Homo sapiens: one gene and its partners. The protein of the gene in region 2 interacts with the protein of the main gene of each other region in a biochemical or structural test. Each region holds a gene or a part of one and is shown on either strand. Other genes may lie near its edges.

The links. Proteins that work in one complex are often made in the same cells at the same time.
Region 1: the proteins of ITSN1 (region 2) and SGIP1 form a complex in vitro, tested with the Homo sapiens proteins (one study listed by BioGRID).
Region 3: the proteins of ITSN1 (region 2) and PTPN22 interact in a surface display test, tested with the Homo sapiens proteins (one large-scale study listed by IntAct).
Region 4: the proteins of ITSN1 (region 2) and DYSF interact in a surface display test, tested with the Homo sapiens proteins (one large-scale study listed by IntAct).

Annotation. Positions count from the first base shown.
Region 1 is NC_000001.11:66,732,020-66,736,688, forward strand, and holds part of SGIP1 (SH3-containing GRB2-like protein 3-interacting protein 1), read left to right. Parts: intron 1-1,728; coding exon 1,729-1,861; intron 1,862-4,669.
Region 2 is NC_000021.9:33,896,321-33,901,442, forward strand, and holds the end of ITSN1 (intersectin-1), read left to right. Parts: 3' UTR 1-3,541; downstream 3,542-5,122. UniProt on the Homo sapiens protein: Adapter protein that provides a link between the endocytic membrane traffic and the actin assembly machinery. Acts as a guanine nucleotide exchange factor (GEF) for CDC42, and thereby stimulates actin nucleation mediated by WASL and the ARP2/3 complex.
Region 3 is NC_000001.11:113,837,177-113,841,845, forward strand, and holds part of PTPN22 (tyrosine-protein phosphatase non-receptor type 22), read right to left. Parts: intron 1,468-4,669; coding exon of another isoform or gene 1,447-1,467; exon of another isoform or gene 1,445-1,446; coding exon 1,368-1,444; intron 1,232-1,367; coding exon 414-1,231; intron 1-413. UniProt on the Homo sapiens protein: Acts as a negative regulator of T-cell receptor (TCR) signaling by direct dephosphorylation of the Src family kinases LCK and FYN, ITAMs of the TCRz/CD3 complex, as well as ZAP70, VAV, VCP and other key signaling molecules.
Region 4 is NC_000002.12:71,468,566-71,473,234, forward strand, and holds part of DYSF (dysferlin), read left to right. Parts: intron 1-4,669. UniProt on the Homo sapiens protein: Key calcium ion sensor involved in the Ca(2+)-triggered synaptic vesicle-plasma membrane fusion.

The DNA.
Region 1 (4,669 bases), on a different chromosome or scaffold from region 2:
CTTGAATATTTATTAAAGCAGGTTCTCTAAGAAATTATCACAGACCTATGACAGCTTATTTTGCTATTAATCTCAGCAAATGTATTTCTTTAAAATAGCATTATATAATTGAGGGTTTCCCAGTTATTCAAATCTACTTAGTACAAATTAATGACATGTTGCTAGATATTAATTCTGAACCTCTATTTTGGCATGGTGTGAAAGTGTTATTTGTAGAACTGATATGGGCTGGAATCTGGCTGTTTCTTATTAGCTGCATGACCTTAAGCAAATTATTTAATTTCACTGACCCTCTGTTACTCTTACCTCCTGCCTGCTTGTATAGCAACAGCTCTGGGAGCTTGGGTAACTTAGATGCTTTTCAATTTAAAAAAACTCAGATAGCCCTTACCAGCATCCCTAGCTCAACTGAAAAGGGGCAAAGTCTTAAGGACCAGGTGTATTTTCCACCCCCTTCCTCCATTTCCAGGGCCAAAGAGCTTTGCCTCATCCTCAATAACTTTATATCCAGGGACAGCAAAACCACACTGGTCACACTGAGACTTGGCCACTCTTTCCTAACAGATCAGTGACAGTTTTAAAGCCCTGGTGTTTTTTACTCAGCTTTCTTGATTTATGAGACTTCTGGAGGCTGAATCATAGCAACTTACTTTTGACCTGTCTTTTCACTTTTTCACTGTATCAGCCTTCTCTCTTCTCAACCCCTAATTTTCTCTCTTTTTTTTTTAACAAGTTTGCTCATCTTTAAAAACAAAGACAATAATTCTTCCTTTGCAGGGTAGATTTTAATGAAATAGTTTATAATGCCTAGCATATAATAGGTGGTTAAGAAACTGTAACTACTGTTATTGCACTATATAGGATATTCTGAAAGTGAACTGTCAGCAAATGTGTGTGACAAGTAACTGAATCACTTGTGGCCTCAGCTTCCTCATTATACGGGAAATGAGTTATATGTTTGTACACTCTTGCCTGATTCTTTTTATCATTGAGATGAGCATTTGCAAGATAGATTGGGTAAGTGGTCTGTATACAGGCCTCTGAGCAAAGCTAAGACTCTCATAGGGATATAAAACTTCTTAGCTTATAGAGACTCTGCTCTTCTTCTGTATTATAACTACCAAAATTATCATTTAAACTCCAGGATCATCTTATAAGTGAAGTGAAATCTTTGATGATTTAAATGCTCATGGATGAAATATTATGAATGCTGAAAAGGCAGCATGGTAATTTTAGTATCACTCTTTTCTGCTTAGTTGGTGATAAAGACCATGTTTACATTTGGCCAAATATTTCACTGGATAATTTCTGAGAAACTACTGGTCAAAGTAATTCAAAAGTAAATAAACGTATTCAGTTCCTTAATTGCCTTAACTGACTAATTTAGACAAAGCTGGTTTCATAGAAAGGGATATTAAGTTTGAGTTAATAAATAATTCACTCTTTAAAGCTCCCAATTATCATCGCAATTAGTTAATATTACTGAGCACTCACTGAGATTGATAGCAACACAGTAGCTCCTCCTCGTGGATATTAATCTACCAACACCATAGCATTCAGAACTGTATTTGTATGAAAACCACACTACTGTTAATAGATTCATAATAATCTCTACAAATTGTCAAAAAATGGCTGTACATATCAGACGACAATTTGCTAAGATGCTTCGTGTAGGGTTTATATTTGTTTTAAGATGCTACTCAATCATTTTTCTTCCCAAATGAACAGTGATAATACACAAAATGATGCCAATACCAAGGAATTCTGGGTAAACATGCCAAATTTGATGACTCACCTAAAGAAAGTGTCTGAACAAAAACCCCAGGCTACATATTATAACGTTGACATGCTCAAATATCAGGTAAGCCTATTTACATGATCGGTATCTCTTCCACATGACATATTTGTTTTCTAAAGTACCTACTATTGAATAAAAGTAACTAAAGTAACACTTCTTTTAACAGTATTTAAAAGCTATAACTCATTTTTTTAAATGGAAACTTTAAAAGATAACTTGGGGACTACTGACAAAAATATTCATACATATTCTTATTAGTTTAAGCTTACAAGTAAAATATTTTATCACAAAATTAGAGAAATGTGCCACAAAAAAATGAAGTTGCAAAACATTATACTAATTAAGATTATAAGTTTATATTGATAAACAAGATGATTATAATTTTGTTAAGAACATTACTATACTAAAACCTCTTATTTTAAATGATTCAAGGTACACAATCTGCTTTTGTTTTTCTAGTAAGATAGTCCTATGAAAGAATTCTAATAAAATCTAACACTAAGAAATAGTTCAATAATAAAGGAATGTTTGATACTTACAATATATGAGAACTTTCTTTTTGTATCTAGAATTGCCCTTATCTCAAATTATTATTGATATACTAAATAAGCCTAATTCATACCAGGATCCTGATAGTGCCTGAGTCTCTCATTGGTTCCCAGCCACTTGACTGCCTAGATTTTTTTGGTTTTTTTTTTTTTTTTTGAGACAGAGTCTCACCCTATCACCCAGGCTGGAGTGCAGTGGCACAATCTTGGCTCACTGCAATGTCCACCTCCTGTGTTCAAGCGATTCTCCTGCCTCAGCCTCCTGAGTAGCTAGGAATACAGGCATGCACCACCAAGCCCTGCTAATTTTTTGTATTTTTAATAGAGACGGGATTTCACCCTGTTGGCTATGCTGGTCTGGAACTCCTGACCTCAGGTGATCCGCCCGCATCAGCCTCCTAAAGTGCTGGGATTACAGGCATGAGCCACCACACCAGCTGACTCCCTAGATTTTTTTAAACTTTTTTATTTTTTAAATTGACAGGTACAATTGTATGTCTGTATTAGGTACAACATGATATTTTGAATATATGTACGTTATGGAATGACTAAACTAACATACGTATTACCTCACATAGTTATTTTTGTGATGAGAACACTTTCCATTCACTTTAGCATTTTTCAGGAATACAGTATATGGTTATTACCTACAGTCACCACCTTATGCAATCAATCTCTTGAATTTATTCCTCTCATCTAACTGAAATTTTGTGTCTTTTGACCAACATCTCTCTAAACAAACCCCCACCCCACCCCACCACCACTACCTCAGCCTCTGGTAACCACCATTCTACTCTCTAATTCTATAAGATCAACTTTTATTTTTATGTTATTTTATTTTATTTTATTTTATTTTATTTAGTTTTTTGAGATGAAGTCTCCCTCTGTTGCCCAAGCTGGAGTGCAGTGGCACGATCTCGGCTAATAGCAACATCCACATCCTGGGTTCAAGCGATCCTCCTGCCTCAGCCTCCCAAGTAGCTGGGATTACAGGCATGCACCATCATCCTGGCTAATTTTTGTATTTTCGATAGAGACGGGGTTTCACCATGTTGGCCAGGCTGGTCTTGAACTCCCAGCCTCAGATGATCCCCGTTCCTTGGCCTCCCAAAGTGCCACTGTGCCCAGCCAAGATCAACTTTTAAATATTCCACATAAGAGTGAGATCGTGTGGGCCGGGCGCGGTGGCTCACGCCTGTAATCCCAGCACTTTGGGAGGCCGAGGCGGGTGGATCATGAGGTCAGGAGATCGAGACCATCCTGGCTAACAAGGTGAAACCCCGTCTCTACTAAAAATACAAAAAATTAGCCGGGCGCGGTGGCGGGCGCCTGTAGTCCCAGCTACTCGGGAGGCTGAGGCGGGAGAATGGCGTGAACCCGGGAGGCGGAGCTTGCAGTGAGCTGAGATTGCGCCACTGCAGTCCGCAGTCCGGCCTGGGCGACAGAGCGAGACTCCGTCTCAAAAAAAAAAAAAAAAAAAAAAAAAAAAAGAGTGAGATCGTGTGGTATTGGTCTTTCTGTGCCTGGCTCATTTCATTTACCACGTTTTTAATGCATTATAATTTTTTATTAAATATGTTCAGATTATTTTTCTTCAAATGAAGGAAGTTGTACTTTAATAAAAATCAGGACATCTCAAACTTGACTGTATTTCTCAATCAAATGCTGGTTCTGAATTGATGCTAAAAAGAAATATATGTGTATACATATTTAAATAATATAAATATTTATTTATAATATTTACATATACAACCTAGATACATATAAAACCTATACAATCTATAACATATAAAATAACACATTATATTCATAAATATAAATATTTATACAAATATTTTAAATATAAATATTTATACAAATATTTTAAATATAAATATTTATACAAATATTTTAAATATAAATATTTATACAAATAGTTTAAAATATTATATAAAATATGCAAATATATAAATATGATATATGTGAATATAATACGATATATTATATGTGAATATAATATGATATATGTGAATATAATATATAATATATGTGAATATATTATATGTGAATATAATATATTGCGTATTATATGTGAATATAATATATTGCGTATTATATGTGAATATAATATATTGCGTATTATATGTGAATATAATATATTGCGTATTATATGTGAATATAATATATTGCGTATTATATGTGAATATAATATATTGCGTATTATATGTGAATATAATATATTGCGTATTATATGTGAATATAATATATTGCGTATTATATGTGAATATAATATATTGCGTATTATATGTAAATATAGGTAGAGATCATTATTAAATATACATAT
Region 2 (5,122 bases):
TTCCTCTGGGCCTTGGGCATCCACTGGGAGCTTTTCTCCCCTTTCCTGGGAGGACAGCAAGCCTTTTCCAACCTTCTGCCTTCAAAGAGAAGCAGGGTCATAGAAGTGCTCAGTGTCCCTTCCCCAGTGGCTGGACACTTGCTCCTCCAGCCTTCACCCCCTGGAGAGAAGGGGAGTCTGCGGAGCCAGTGCCTCCCTGCCCAGCTGGGCCACACGATCTGGTCTGCGGGTGTCTGGGAGGAACCTGCTTCGGAGAGGCTGCGACCTCCCAGCTAGACTCTCCCCTTAGGATCCCATGTATGGGGATGGTAGGAGAGAAAAGATCCCTCTGTGTAAGTAGCCTCAAGTTCTAGAAGACCATGGCCCCGGGAGGCAGCTGACCATGAAGCTGGGCTTCCTGTTGTTGCTTTCTTTCACGAGCTTTTACTTTTCCTGGGCTGGACGCTCCAAAATGTTTGCAGTTCCATTTGCTTTTTGCAAGTAGGTCCCCATCTCCATATACATTGAGCAATAATCCTCACTATGTTTCCTGATTCTGTCTGGGATTATATTTGCTAAGTAAAAATGTTGACAGAAATTGCAAACTCATCTCACCTGGATTTGATTGAGTCACCTTGAATGACATAACAAATTATGGCTTTGTTTTCATGCGTCATGCAATCTTCCGGACTACGGGAAGTTCTGCAAGTGTTCTCCAGGGGCATTTCATTAATAGCGTGTCAGCATTAGTTTTAATGAATGAACATTTGAGGTACATTCTATAAATCAATATCCTTAAAATGTCATCTGCTAAACATTCACTGTGACAGAAAGTAGATATTTTAGCAAGATCTATGTTAATGCTACTTAATTTTAGACATGCATTTAAAGCCTACATGGCCAATAGCCCAAGTATCTTTGAACTGTGAAATCAACCTCAGATCTCATCTGCTGTAGCCCCGCAAGCCGGAGTCTGTGCCCTCCATGACCCTTCTTATCCCTTGGTGGCCCTGCATAGATAGGGGAGTTGGCCCCTGCCCACCCCGTGTTGTATTGCCTTAGCTCCATCAGCTTTGTACCCTCACACGTATAGGTGGTGAACTTATGTGTAAATACATGTGTACAGATGAGAAACTGCAACAAAAATGTCCTGTGGATGATAATCAGCTCAGTTTCCGGTTTTCTACATTCTGTGCTGTTTCCAGCTAAGAAAAAGGCGAACTCCCACTATATAAAGGGAAAAGGTTGTATTCATTTCATGTTCCTCATGAAATCTCTGCTGTATGTTTATGGAATGGCCATGACTAAATGTATATATGGTATGTAAGAGGCCATGCTGTTAAATGTTGCATAAACTAACACAGATTCTGTAGTCAAAAATATTTAACTTGTTATTGTAAAATGTGATTTGTCATTGAGAGATTATTTTTCTGTATGTATATGAGAGTATTTTAGGAATCTAATTTAAGTGCATAAAACTATAGAAAAAAATTTAAAACCTATTCCAAGAGTAGAAAATGCTTAATGAGATTACTTGGGTTCAACTCAACTAAATTTCTTATATTAAAAAAAAATTCCAAGTTGTATATGTTAGAAATCAAATGAGTCATTTTTTTTCCTGCAGGAAATATGATAAATTTCAGTGTAATGGATGGTGGCGTGATCAAATGAAAAGTATCCTGTAGCTATGACCTCGCATGGGACCTTGGTGTTGCATTAAAAATGGATTTTTGCAGATCACATATCTGAGAGGGTACTTGTGTCAGGAAGGATGAGAGGATAGGGAGCCTGTTTTTCATCAGATCCATGTGCCACGCAGGCTTCCTTGGGTTCTAGTGGATTTGTTAGGGATCTGGGGCTGACGCAGCTATCCCACTAGAGAGGCCACTCTCTGACTTCCAGGTCGCCCTTTCTACTTCTGTATCTGGATTGATTCAGTTTATCCCTAATTAGCGTTTGCGTTTTCCATGAAATTTCCTGATGCATCCTCACTGTCTTCAACTGTTGCATAGCCAGGTGGGTGGATGGATGGTTTAGGGTTTCTGAGTTAAGCCGTTTTGGGGCAGGCTTCTGGATGCCCATGTTTCCATGGAGACCCCAGGGGGAAGATGCCTTCCTCCCGTCTGCATTCCCAGAAAAGGATCAGAAGTCCAGGCTGCTTCTGGGGCACAGACTTTCTGTACTTGGCCACCAGAAGTGCCCCTTAGGCCACCTAAGGAGGATTCTGTGAAACTCAATGTCTAAACCCCTGAGAAAGGCATTCAGAAATGATTTCAGGAGGGGGCAACCCCAGGAGTCCAGCCTCCCCTGGCAGCCTGGAAATACTGCAGTAACAAAAAGAGCTGGTTTCTGGTGATCTGAATGCATTGTGTTTGGGGGTGACACCGCTGGTGGAAGGTTGAGGGCCTGTGGTCTGAAAAGACATCTGAAGAATGTGTTAGGTTTTCAACATTTCTTTGAACAGGCTGCGTGCATCTTAATGCTGTCAACCAGCAACTGGAGCCCCTTTTTTGAGAGGCCCGAACCAGTAAAGCTGCTGACTTCAGGAGTATGGGAAGCTGTGATTTCTGGAAGCTTCCTGGAATCTATTTAGGTGCATGAATAATCTGCAAATCACTTAGAGGCACTGTCCATGTGGTCCATAACTGGCTTTATTCCCAAAGATGGAGCTGTTCAGAGATTTCTTTGTTCAGGCGCAGCCTTGGAAGGCCACCTAAGGCCTGCCAGCAGAGGAGATGAGCTCTGGTCTACCAACCCCAAACAGGCCCTGACTCTCCTTCCTTAGAACGATGCCCTCTGGCTGGGGTGGCAAGAGGGCTGTGAGTGGAAACAAGTCAGCCAGTCAACTGTCCCTTGGGCCTTGGTTGTTTCAAAAAAGTCTGGGGACAAGAAAAGCTAGAACATGGGGCCCTCCCTTCCCAGGAGTGCTAGCGAACCCTCCCAGATAGCCTTTGCCTGTTTGGAAAAGAATGTAATCCATCAGAACGTGAGCTCCTTGTGCTTCCAGTGACAAGCGGGCCACAGTGCTGGTGGCATGTTGCTTCCCTCACAGCCCTGCCCAGGGGTAGGACCAGGCCCGCCCCTTGATGGATGTGCTGTTGATTGTAATATACTTCTGTTGCCAAATAATGGTACTGTTTAATTTTCCATAAAAGAGAGACTATATTGTCTGATATGTAATGTTAATGGAATTCTAAGAATTACTAGACACTATTATAAATTGTAGACTTACGTATTTGTCTAAAGGTTTGATGAAGCAGGGCCAAAACATTGTTTCTTCTTTTTTGTTTGAAAGAAGCTGAGGTTTGTTTTTGCTGTTTGAGTGTTCCTTTGGCAACTTATTATGTGTGAAATGTTAAATTTTACCGATTAAGATGATGGTAACTGAGACCTTTCTTTAAACCAGTAGCAACATCAGTACAAATTGCTCTTCCTGTGTATCTTGAACCTAAAAAGAACAATCTCTTCAAAAACAAAAACAAAAACAAAAAACAACTCTTTGGTCATTTTGACCTGTGTGGTTTAAATTCAAATAGTTCATGAATAAAAGGAGAAAAGCCAATCTGTTATAGTGGATTATTTTGGGTTCTTTCTGCTTCACTCTTTTCTGAGAGCACAGGAAGCTAACAGCCCTGCAAATGGTGTCTCTTCCTCTTCCCACAGATAAGATTGTAGCTGTGCAAGGAAAATTGTGCAGAAATAAACCTAGAAAACAAAACCAACCAACAACCCTTTCAGCTGTCCTGCGGCTTCAGATAAATGTTAGCTAACACCAAGCAGAAATAGATTTCTGTGTACGAAGTCTTTGTGAGAACAGGAGAAGTTTTGTGTTGTACAGCATAAGAAATTCTGAGGGTGGGGTTGAGAGGGCGGTGCAAAAAGCTGATTTTCTTATAAAGACATTCAGAAGGGTCGCTGAATTTCCAGGAAGAAGTTTCTAACACACGTAACTCCACGTGTTCAGCACTTGGGTGATCTATAATTCTGCGTTCCATAAAACCCAACGCTGAATTGTATTAGGTTGTTTCCTCCTGTTCTGGTTTTAAGGCCATTCCTACCTATTTCATCACTGATTTAACTGACTATAAATAAGTCCTTTAAATTCTCTAGCTGGCTTGGACACTAGTTGAATTGTGACATAGCACATTTTTAAAAAGTTGACCCTACAGCAGTATGTCTTTGCCTTTTTAAAACTAGTATGCCCCATTTTTGAAGAACATAAAATCGTATGCCCTTTTCTTGGTTGTTATTTGAAGTTTTAAAAATAAGTTAAGGCTGGATGTGGTGGCTCACACCTGTAATCCCAGTGCTTTGGGAGGCTGAGGCAGGAGGATTGCTTGCATCCAGAAGTTCAAGACCAGCCTGAGCAACATAGTGAGACCTTGTCTTTACAAAAAATAAATCAGCCAGGCATGGTGGCACATGCTCATGGTCCCGGGTATTTGGGAGGCTGAGGCAGGAGGATCTCTTGAGTCCAGGAGGCCAAGGCTGCAGTGAGCCATGATTGTGCCACTGCACTCCAGTCTGGGTGACAGAGTGAGACCCTGTCTTAAAAATAAAAAGTTAAATGCCATTAAAAACAAATGCAATAATTAACTTTCCCAACTATACCTAGTTCTCTCCAAGTCTGATGAGGGCCCCCTCACACAGACCAGAGAGTGGATGGAATCACTAGTACAAAACATGTAATTATTACCTATTTAACCACGGTTAGTAGCCAGCATAATCAAGGCAATACTTTTTATTCTCAAATATTTAGTTTTTCTTCTTGTTACAGAAGTAATACTTGTTAATGCAGAAAATTCAGCAAGGAAAGAAAAACACAAAGGAAATAAAATCACTTAATGGAGATGTTCTTCTACACAAAAATAAAGGTTTTGATGCACTTCATTTCTGTATTTTTTGTGTGTGTGTGCATTTTAAATACTCTTGTACTATTTATTTATTTATGAGACGGAGTCTTGCTCTTGTCACCCTGGCTGCGCTCGGCCTCTTGTACTATTTAATAGCTAATATGCATCGAAAATATCCCATATACAAGGGACTGTAAAACTTTCACCTTGATTTTAAAAAAATACTGTGAAGAAAATCATTGTAGGCTGGGTGTGGTGGCTCAAGCCTATAATCCCAGCACTTTGGGAGG
Region 3 (4,669 bases), on a different chromosome or scaffold from region 2:
CGTGGTGGCTCATGCCTGTAATCTCAGCACTTTGGGAGGCCGAGGCAGGCAGATCACGAAGTCAAGAGATCAAGACCATCCTGGCCAACATGGTGAAACTCCATCTCTGCTAAAAATACAAAAATTAGCCGGGCGTGGTGGCGCGCGCCTGTAATCCCAGCTACTCAGGAGGCTGAGGCAGGAGAATTGCTTGAACTCTGGAGGCGGAAGTTGCATTGAGCCAAGATTGCACCACTGCACTCCAGCCTGGGTGACAGAGCGAGACTCCATCTCAAAAAAAAAAAAGAAAAAAAAGAGAAAAAAGAAAGAAAGAGAAGAAGCAGAGGAGAAGAGGGAAGAGGAGAAGAAACCAACTATTCTATAGAAACAAAATGAAATCTAAAATTCTATGCAAACTTTAAAAAATAACTTACCTAGTACAGCTGACTCCTGGTTCAATAGTGAGGAAATATTGGTTGGAGAATTCAGTGATAAAGAATCATGTGAATTGTAATAAGAGAAGAGGGATGTAGAGGATGTTGGCAACAGAGAAGAAGGAAAAACAGTTCCATCTTGCTTCTCAGGTAAATCAAGAGACATCTTAGAACTGGTACCACTTGGAGGCCATGATGAAAAATAAGGATTTTCCACTAAAGGTATGTAAGAATATACACCAAGAGCACTAGAGTCATGGTGCTTTACATTAGAGGCATTACGTATTTGGTGTTTAGAGTCATATGGCAGTGAATAATTCAGTTCTGCTGAAGAAACATGCATTACTTTTTGAGCCTGCATCTCTACAAAACAAGAATCATGTGGTTGAGATTCCAAATAAGAAAAGTTTTCCTTGCTGTCCACCTCCTTGGTTTCTCTCTGCTGTATCAATTCAAAAGGAGTTGATTTGGTCCGTGTTATTGGCACCTTTGAATTAAAATATCTTCCTGCTGCATTTACAGGTTTAGAATTAGAACATCCCTCAAACAAAAGAGAGCCCAAATCCAAACTTTGATGCTTCTGAAGAGGCTCCCCAACTATTGGAAATGCCTTTGTCTGCCATTTCATGGTTGTGTCAGCATTTTTGTCAAAACTGTAATTTAGCTCCAGAAAGTCAAAAGAAGTGCTTGATTTAGCAGGGTGCAAAACTAGCTCTTCTTTTGCACTTATTTCAGAAGTCCTAAAGTCAAAGGAAGAAGATTCTTTGATTTCCATTTTTGTCCTTTGTTGGTTCATCATTTTTGCTGCTTTTGTGGTACTAAAACAAAAAGAAAGCGTAATGATGACACCATACCCCAAACAGGCCGCTTCCTAGCATCACAATGATGTATAAGCATGAGATTCATCTCCCAGACACAATTAGTCAACATTTAGATATATAAAATTGTACTCACCTTTTTGGTAAATTAGGAGAATAAGAGTCTGCTTGGAGAGTGTGATTTTTCTCAGGAATACAATGCTTTGCTTGACTCTTTAAAAGAAATAAGTCAGAGGCTGGTTTTCAGTGAAGCAATGTCAATAAGATATTTTAATATTTAGAAGGCTGAAAAGTAATTTTTCAGGAAATAAAAAGATTTAAAATAATTCATGAAAGAGTTAGATTAGCTTCCAAAATATTGAACTCAGCAAGAACTCGTTCATATACTGAGATGGCCAGAATAAAGGATTAATAGTATTATAGAAACTAGAAAGGATTTGTGTATATCATCATCTTTTCAAATGTGGGAGTTTTAAAAATGTTCTTTGGTGGGTAACTTTAGTCTCAAAAACACTCTGCCTTTAGAAATTTCAGCATCTCAGCCCTTTACAGGTACTTATTAGGTCTCTGGACCTATTTCATCTTGTTCTACTCTTTTCCTCCTCACTATGCTCTAGGTATACTGGTTTTCTTGCCATTACTTTAGCATGCCAAACTTATTTCCAAGTCAAGGCTTTTACACTTACTATTCCCCCTGATTAATATATTTTTGCTCCAAATTTTGCATGGCTGGCTCCTTCTAAGTAATTAGATCTCTGCTTAACTGTCATCTGCATAAGGAAACCTTCCCTGACCACCCAACCTAAAATCACATTTCTTCCCCTGTCCAGCCATGCTCAATCTTCTTCTTTTTTAAGAGACAGGGCCTCGCTGTATTGCCCAGTCTGGCCTCAAACTTCTGGGCTCAAGCAGTCCTCCTACCTCAGCCTCCCAAGTAGCTGGGACACTACAGGTGTGTACCACAGTGCCTGGCCTCAATCTTTTTTTTTTTTTTTGAATTAAGTTAGGGTCTTATTCTGTTACCCAGGCTGGAGTGCAGTGGCACAAACATGGCTCACTGCGGTGTTGACCTCCTGGGTTCAAGTCCTCCTCTCACCTCAGCTTCCCAATCCTTATTTTTTATAGCAATTATCATATTATGAAATATGTTATTGTGGTTCATAGAATCTTAAAATATAATTGATTATAAAATATATCTTCATTTCAGAGATGTTAAAATCCATTTTGAACATCTCAGTTGATGCAGAAAAAGCGTTTGACAAAATTCATGTTAAAATCACTTAACAAAATAGGAATATAAGGAAATGTTCTCAACATGATAGAGGCCATATATGAAAACCCATAACTAACATCATATTCATACATGAAAGACTTAAACTTTCCCCTAAGATCAAAAACAAGACAAGAATGCCAACTTTTACCACTTCTATTCAACATAGTACTAAAGTTCTAGCCAAAGTAATTTTTTTAATTAATTTTGTTCTTAGGCAAGAAAAAAAAAAGCATTCAAATTGGAAAAAAAGGCTGCGCACAGTGGCTCACGCCTGTAATCCCAGCACTTTGGGAGGCCAAGGTGAGTGGATCCCTTGAGGTCAGGAGTTTGAAACCAGCCTGGCCAACATGGTGAAAGCCCGTCTCTATTAAAAATATAAAAATTAGCCGGGCATGTGGTGCACACCTGTAATCCCACCTATTCGGGAGGCTGAAGCAGGAGACTTGCTTGAGCCCAGGAGGCGGAGGTTGAAGTGAGCCGAGATCGTACCACTGCATTCCAGCCTGGGCGACAGAATAAGACCCTAACTTAATTCCATCTCAAAAAAAAAAAAAAAATTGGAAAAAAAGGAAGTAAAATTATCTCTAGTCTCAGATGACATGATTTTATATATGGGATTCCACAAAAAATCTGCTAGAGCTAATAAACAAATTCAAAGTTGCAGGATGTAAAATGAACACATAAAACGAGTTGCATTTCTATACATTAGCAATGAACAATCTGAAAAGAACATTAAGGAAACAGTTATATTTATAATGGCATCAAAAAGAATAAAATACTTAGGAATAGATTTAACCAAGGAGGCAAAAGACTTGTATACTGAAAACTACAAAGCTTTGCTGAAAGAAATTAAATAAGATATAAATAAATAGACATTCAAAGTGATCTACAAGTGCAATGCAATTCTTATCAAAAACCCAATGGCATTTTTACATAATTTGTTTAAAAAACAGACTAAAATTCATGGAATTTCAAGGGGCACTGAACAGTCAAAACAATCTTGAAAAAGAAGAGCAAAGTTGAATGACACACTACCTGATTTCAAAAATTGCAACAGAGCTACAGTAATTAAAACAGTGTGGTACTGACATAGTATAGACTAAAGACCAATGGAATAGAAGAGCTTTGAAAAAAACATTTACATATGGTGGGCAATTGATTTTTGACAAAAGTGCCAAGAAAATTCAATGGAGAAAGGAGAGTGTTTTCAATAAATGATTCTGGGAAAAACTGAATATACACATGCAAAAGAATGAAGTTGAGGCTGGGTGCGGTGGCTCATGCCTGTAATCCCAGCACTTTGGGAGGCTGAGGCGGGTGGATCACCTGAGGTCAGGAGTTTGAGACCAGCCTGACCAACATGGAGAAACCCCGTCTCTACTAAAAATACAAAATTAGCCAGGCATGGTGGCGCATGCCTGTAATCCCAGCTACTCAAGAGGCTGAGGCCGGAGAATCACTTGAACCAGGGAGGTGGAGGTTCCAGTGAGCCAAGATCACGCCATTGCACTCCACCCTGGGCAGCAAGAACGAAACTCCATCTCAAAGGAAAAAAAAAAAGAGAGAGAATGAAGTTGGACCCTTATCTTATGATACAGAAATTAACTCAAAAATTGATCAAATACCTAAACATAAGAAGTAAAATGTAAAACTCTTATAAGAAAATGGGCAAGCTTCATGACATTGGATTTGGCAACGATTTCTTGGATAGGACACCAAAGGCACAAACAACAAAAGAATAATAGGAAAATTGGACTTCATTGAGATTAAGACTTTTACACACCAAAGGACACAAAGGCAAAAAGGCAACCCATTGACTGAATGGAAGACGGTATTTGCAAATCACATATCTGATAAGGGATCAATATCCAGAATACATAGAGAACTCCTAAAACTCAACAACATGTAAACAACTCTTTTTTTTTTTTTTTTGGTGGAGGGGGACAGAGTCTTACTCTGTCACCCAGGCTAGAGTGCAGTGGTGCGATCTCGGCTCACTGCAGCCTCTGCCTCCTGGGGTCCAGCAATTCTCCTGCATTAGCCTCCCAAGTACCTGGGATTACAGGCACACGCCACCACACCCGGCTAATTTTTGTCTTTGTAGGAGAGACGGGATTTCACCATGTTGGCCAGGCTGATCTCAAACTCCTGACCTCAAGTGATCT
Region 4 (4,669 bases), on a different chromosome or scaffold from region 2:
TTCTTTGTAATGCCTTACTATTTATTTGCACTGATGATCTCCTCGGAAAACAGAAATACCATACAATAGAATGTAACATCTCCAACCGTTTCAAGTCTATTTGTATTTCAAAGCCCAGGGCAATGCCACCTTCTCCAGGAGGACACCCTGGATCCCCCTGGCTCTCAAGAGTCTCTCCTCTCTGGATGACAAGCAGCAGCACCTTGCTAGGGATGCTAGCACCCTCGCCCTGACTGGCCTGTGCTCAGCTCCATGCTTAGGTGCCTTGAGAGCAGTGACCTGTCCTATTTGTTCATTGGTTTGTCCCAGTGCTGAGCACAAGTAGGTGCTCTCTAGTGTTTGTGCGCTTTCTGGCCCAGCCTCTAGCCATCCTCCAGGTGTGCCTGGGAGCTTCATTTAGTCTGGGACATGGTCCGCTCACTTGATTGTTCCTGAGAATCACTTGTAGAACGTGTTTGAGAAACAGATTCCAGAGTCCCCATCTGTAGAGGTTCCGATGCAGCAGGTCTGGAAGGTGACCTAAGAATCAGCACTTAACAAATACCCGATGCAGGTTATTTTGGAACCGCATCTTGGGAAAAATGGGTCTGAGATGTGATGGCAGGTGAAATTAATGCGCTCCCCATTGCGGGAGCATTCACTGGGGAGTTTGGGGCTGAGTTGATGCCTAAGGAGGGAAACCGTTAGAACCAGGTTCAGAACTTACAGAGCATGTAGGCTGGGGGGACTCAACTCTGGCTGCAGGTCAACATTGTGTGTGGGAGCTTCACCAAAGACCACTGCCAACCTCCCTGCCTGCCTTTTCTGAAGCCAGATCCCTTCCGGTGGGGCCCCAGGCATAGGTGTTGTTTCTGTCAAATTTCCAGGTGTTTTGAATGTGCAGTCAGGGTTGAGAACCACTGAGCCCAGCTCCTCATGGCACAGATGGGACAGTGGCCTGCTTGCAGAGAAGCCAGCCTGCACTGTGTGTTTGGCTCCTACAGGCAGCCTGAAATGTATGGGGCTGGGCTGGCCCCACTTTCCTTGCAGTTGTTCCCTGTCTCGGATGTAATTTCAGGACCTGCCTCCCAAAATAGACTATGAGCTCTGGGAGGCTGGACTCTGAGGGCAATTTTTTGGCTTCCCTGTCTAAGCACCTCTATTAATAGTAGAGGCTACTAATGAATACTTCTCATTCTTTTGTTTTTCTATTAATTAATTCATTAACTAAAACTACCATGAGTAACTGGGCCATAGTAGATATTTTTGACTGATTGTGTCAACGAGCAGCTTAATTTCCTATAGCATTTAATTGTCTGTACTTCTTTTCTGCCCTGCCCATTTTCCATTCCTTAATGTGATTATTTATATCCCTCTATTCATGCAGTTAGTTCATTGAACAAATATTTACTGAGTACCTACTACGTGCCTGGTGCTTTTCTAGGTGCTTGGATGCATACAAGAACAAAACCAGATCCCTACTGCTTTAAAGCTGAAACATCTTATTTCCTTGAAGGCCAGATCTGCTGCGTCCCCACTTGGTGAATTTCTGCCCTGTGTCATCAGCCAGGAACCCAGAAGTCATTACTGACACTTCCCTCTCTCTCATCCTGTCAGGGCGTCTCCTCCTCCAGCCTCCCCCTCCCACCTCTTCTCTTCTTGATCTCCTGGGGGTCTCTAGATTTGGGGCAGGAGTTGGGGGATCTTATAGAACTAGTTGGAGGTGGATTCCTGTCGTCAGGGAACACTCTTAACTCACCTATGTAGGGAAAGTGGGCTGAAGGCCCCGGACTCTCTGAACCTAGCTGTTTACATATTACAAATGACTTAAAATATTGAAAACAGCGGCCAGGCGTGGTGGCTCACGCCTGTAATCCCAGCAATTTGGGAGGCCAAGGCGGGTGGATCATGAGGTCAGGAGATCGAGACAATCCTGGCTAACATGGTGAAACCCTGTCTCTACTAAAAATACAAAAAAAATTAGCCGGGTGTGGTGGTGGGTGCCTGTAGTCCCAGCTACTCGGGAGGCTGAGGCAGGAGAATGGCATGAACCCAGGAGACGGAGGTTGCAGTGAGCCAAGATTGAGCCACTGCACTCCAGCCTGGGTGACAGAGTGAGACTCCATCTCAAAAAAAAAAAAAAAAAAAAGAAAAGAGCTTTCTCTTCTCTTCCTTCTTTCCTTCCTTCCTTCTTTCCTTCCTTCCTTCCTTCCTTCCTTCCTTCCTTCCTTCCTTCCTTCATTCCTTCCTTCTTTTTTTTTTTTGAAATGGACTTTCACTCTTATTACCCAGGCTGGAGTGCAATGGCACGTTGTCGGCTCATTGCAACCGCCGCCTCCCAGGTTCGAGTGATTCTCCTGCCTCAGCCTCCCGAGTAGCTGGGATTACAGGCACCTGCAACCATGCCTGGCTAATTTTTATTTTTATTTTTAGTAGAGATGGGGTTTCACCATGTTGCCCAGGCTGGTCTCAAACTCCTGACATCAGTCAATCCACCCACCTTGGCCTCCCAAAGTGCTTGGATTACAGGTGTCAGCCACCCCGCCTAGCCTGTTTTCTTTTTATAAACATAATATGTACTTGCTGTTAAAAATGACAAACTACAGAAAGGCCATGAGGCAAGAGTAAAAAATAGCCCCAAATCCTGCCACTTTGAATTAACTTGTTAACAATTTGACACATTTCCTCCAAGATTTTTTTTCTTAAAAATTTTAGTTATAAAATTTAACATACAAGGAAAGTGCAGAAGATATAAATATATGATTTAATACAGTAGTTCTCAACTGGGGGCAGTTTTTTCCTCAGATGACATTTGCCAATGTCTGGAGACATTTTGGGTTGTTGCCACAGGGGTTGGGGGCACAGGGTGTTTATCTACAGGGTAGAGGCTGAGGATGCTGCTAGACATTCCACAGTGCAAGGGGAGGTCCCCCACACCAACCACAGAGTGATTCAGCCCACATAGTAATCATGCCACGGTTGAGAATAAATATGTGTGTGAAGAGAATAACTATGTAATATCACCCAGGTCAAACAGGTCAAGAAATAGCACCTGGCCAGCCCCATTTCTCCACCAGAAGTAATCCCATCATAGATTTTTTTTTTCCCAAATGTTTGCACATTTGCTGAAAAATAAACCAGGGGGCCGGGTGTGGTGGCTCACGCCTGTAATCCCAGCACTTTGGGAGGCTGAGGTGGGCGGATTGCTTGAGGCCAGGAGTTCCAGGCCAGCCAACAGGGTGAAACCCTGTCTCTACTGAAAAATACAAAAATTAGCCAGGCATGGTGGTGTGTGCCTGTAATCCCAGCTACTTGAGGGGCAGAGGCACAAGAATCGCTTGAACCCAGGAGGTGGAGGCTGCAGTGAGCCGAGATCTCACCACTGCTCTCCAGCCTGGATGACAGAATGAGACTCAGTCTCAAAAACATCAATTAATTAATTAAAAAAAAATCCAGGGTCATTTTTTATGTCAGTAAGTATTCTTCTATAACACCTTTATAAATATCTGCGTAATATTTTCTTATATGGATGCACCATCATTAATTTACTCAACCCCCTACTGATGAATATTTAGGTTATATAAGTGTTTATATTTATATCCAGTGCTTAAATTATACAGTCACTGTGAGGCATATTCTGGTGACTACATCTTTGGCCACATATTTAATTATTTCCTTTGGGTAAATACCAGAAGATGAATTGCTATGTCAGAGGTTATAGACAGATTTAATGCGTTGCTGCATTTCCCAAATTGTTCTTGAAGTCTGTATCAACTTTATCCTCCTGTCAGCCAAGTATGAGGGCTTATTTTTCTAATAATCCTGCTAACACACAGCATTGTCCTGTAAATCTTTGACACTTTCTTTCTTTTTTTTCTTTTTGACAGAGTCTCATTCTGTCGCCCAGGCTGGAGTGGAGTGGCGCGATCTCGGCTCACTGCAAGCTCTGCCTCCCGGGTTCACGCCATTCTCCTGCCTCAGCCTCCCAAGTAGCTGGGACTACAGGCGTCCACCACCACGCCAGGCTAATTTTTTGTATTTTTAGTAGAGACGGGGTTTCACCATGTTAGCCAGGATGGTCTGGATCTCCTGACTTCGTGATCCACCCGCCTTGGCCTCCCAAAGTGCTGGGATTACAGGCGTGAGCCACCGCGCCAAGCCAACACTTTCTTAAGGTTCAAATAGTATTTGTGATACTTCATTGTTATCACCTATTCGTATTTATTCTTACTGAATTACTTTTTCATTTGCCCATGGTGGAGCATGTTTGTCTTTTTCTTCATTAGTTGCAAGTGCTCTTTATGTATTGAGAATGTTACCGTTTTTGTCATAGATGTTTCTAGTATCTTCTCCAGTTCTGTTTGTTTTTCTTTAATTGGCAAGTAAAAATTATATGTAAATATCTTCCCCAGTTCTAATGTAAATATCTTCCCCAGGCCTTCTGAGTTTAAAGACTACTCTTCTTGAAGTGCATTTCACCCTGGCTCCCTCCCTTTTTGGCCACTTCTGTGGTTCCAGCTAGGATTTAGGAAGGTGGGGTGGAGGGTGGTTGACGGGGAGAGGAGCAGTGCTCTGCTGATGATAGGGGAGACAGCTGCCCAGTTCTTGGGGTGTCCAGGCCTGAGAACACCATGGCAGGGCAGGTGTCAGAATGACCATCTACCTCTGCTTTTTGTTTGGGGGTGTCTGT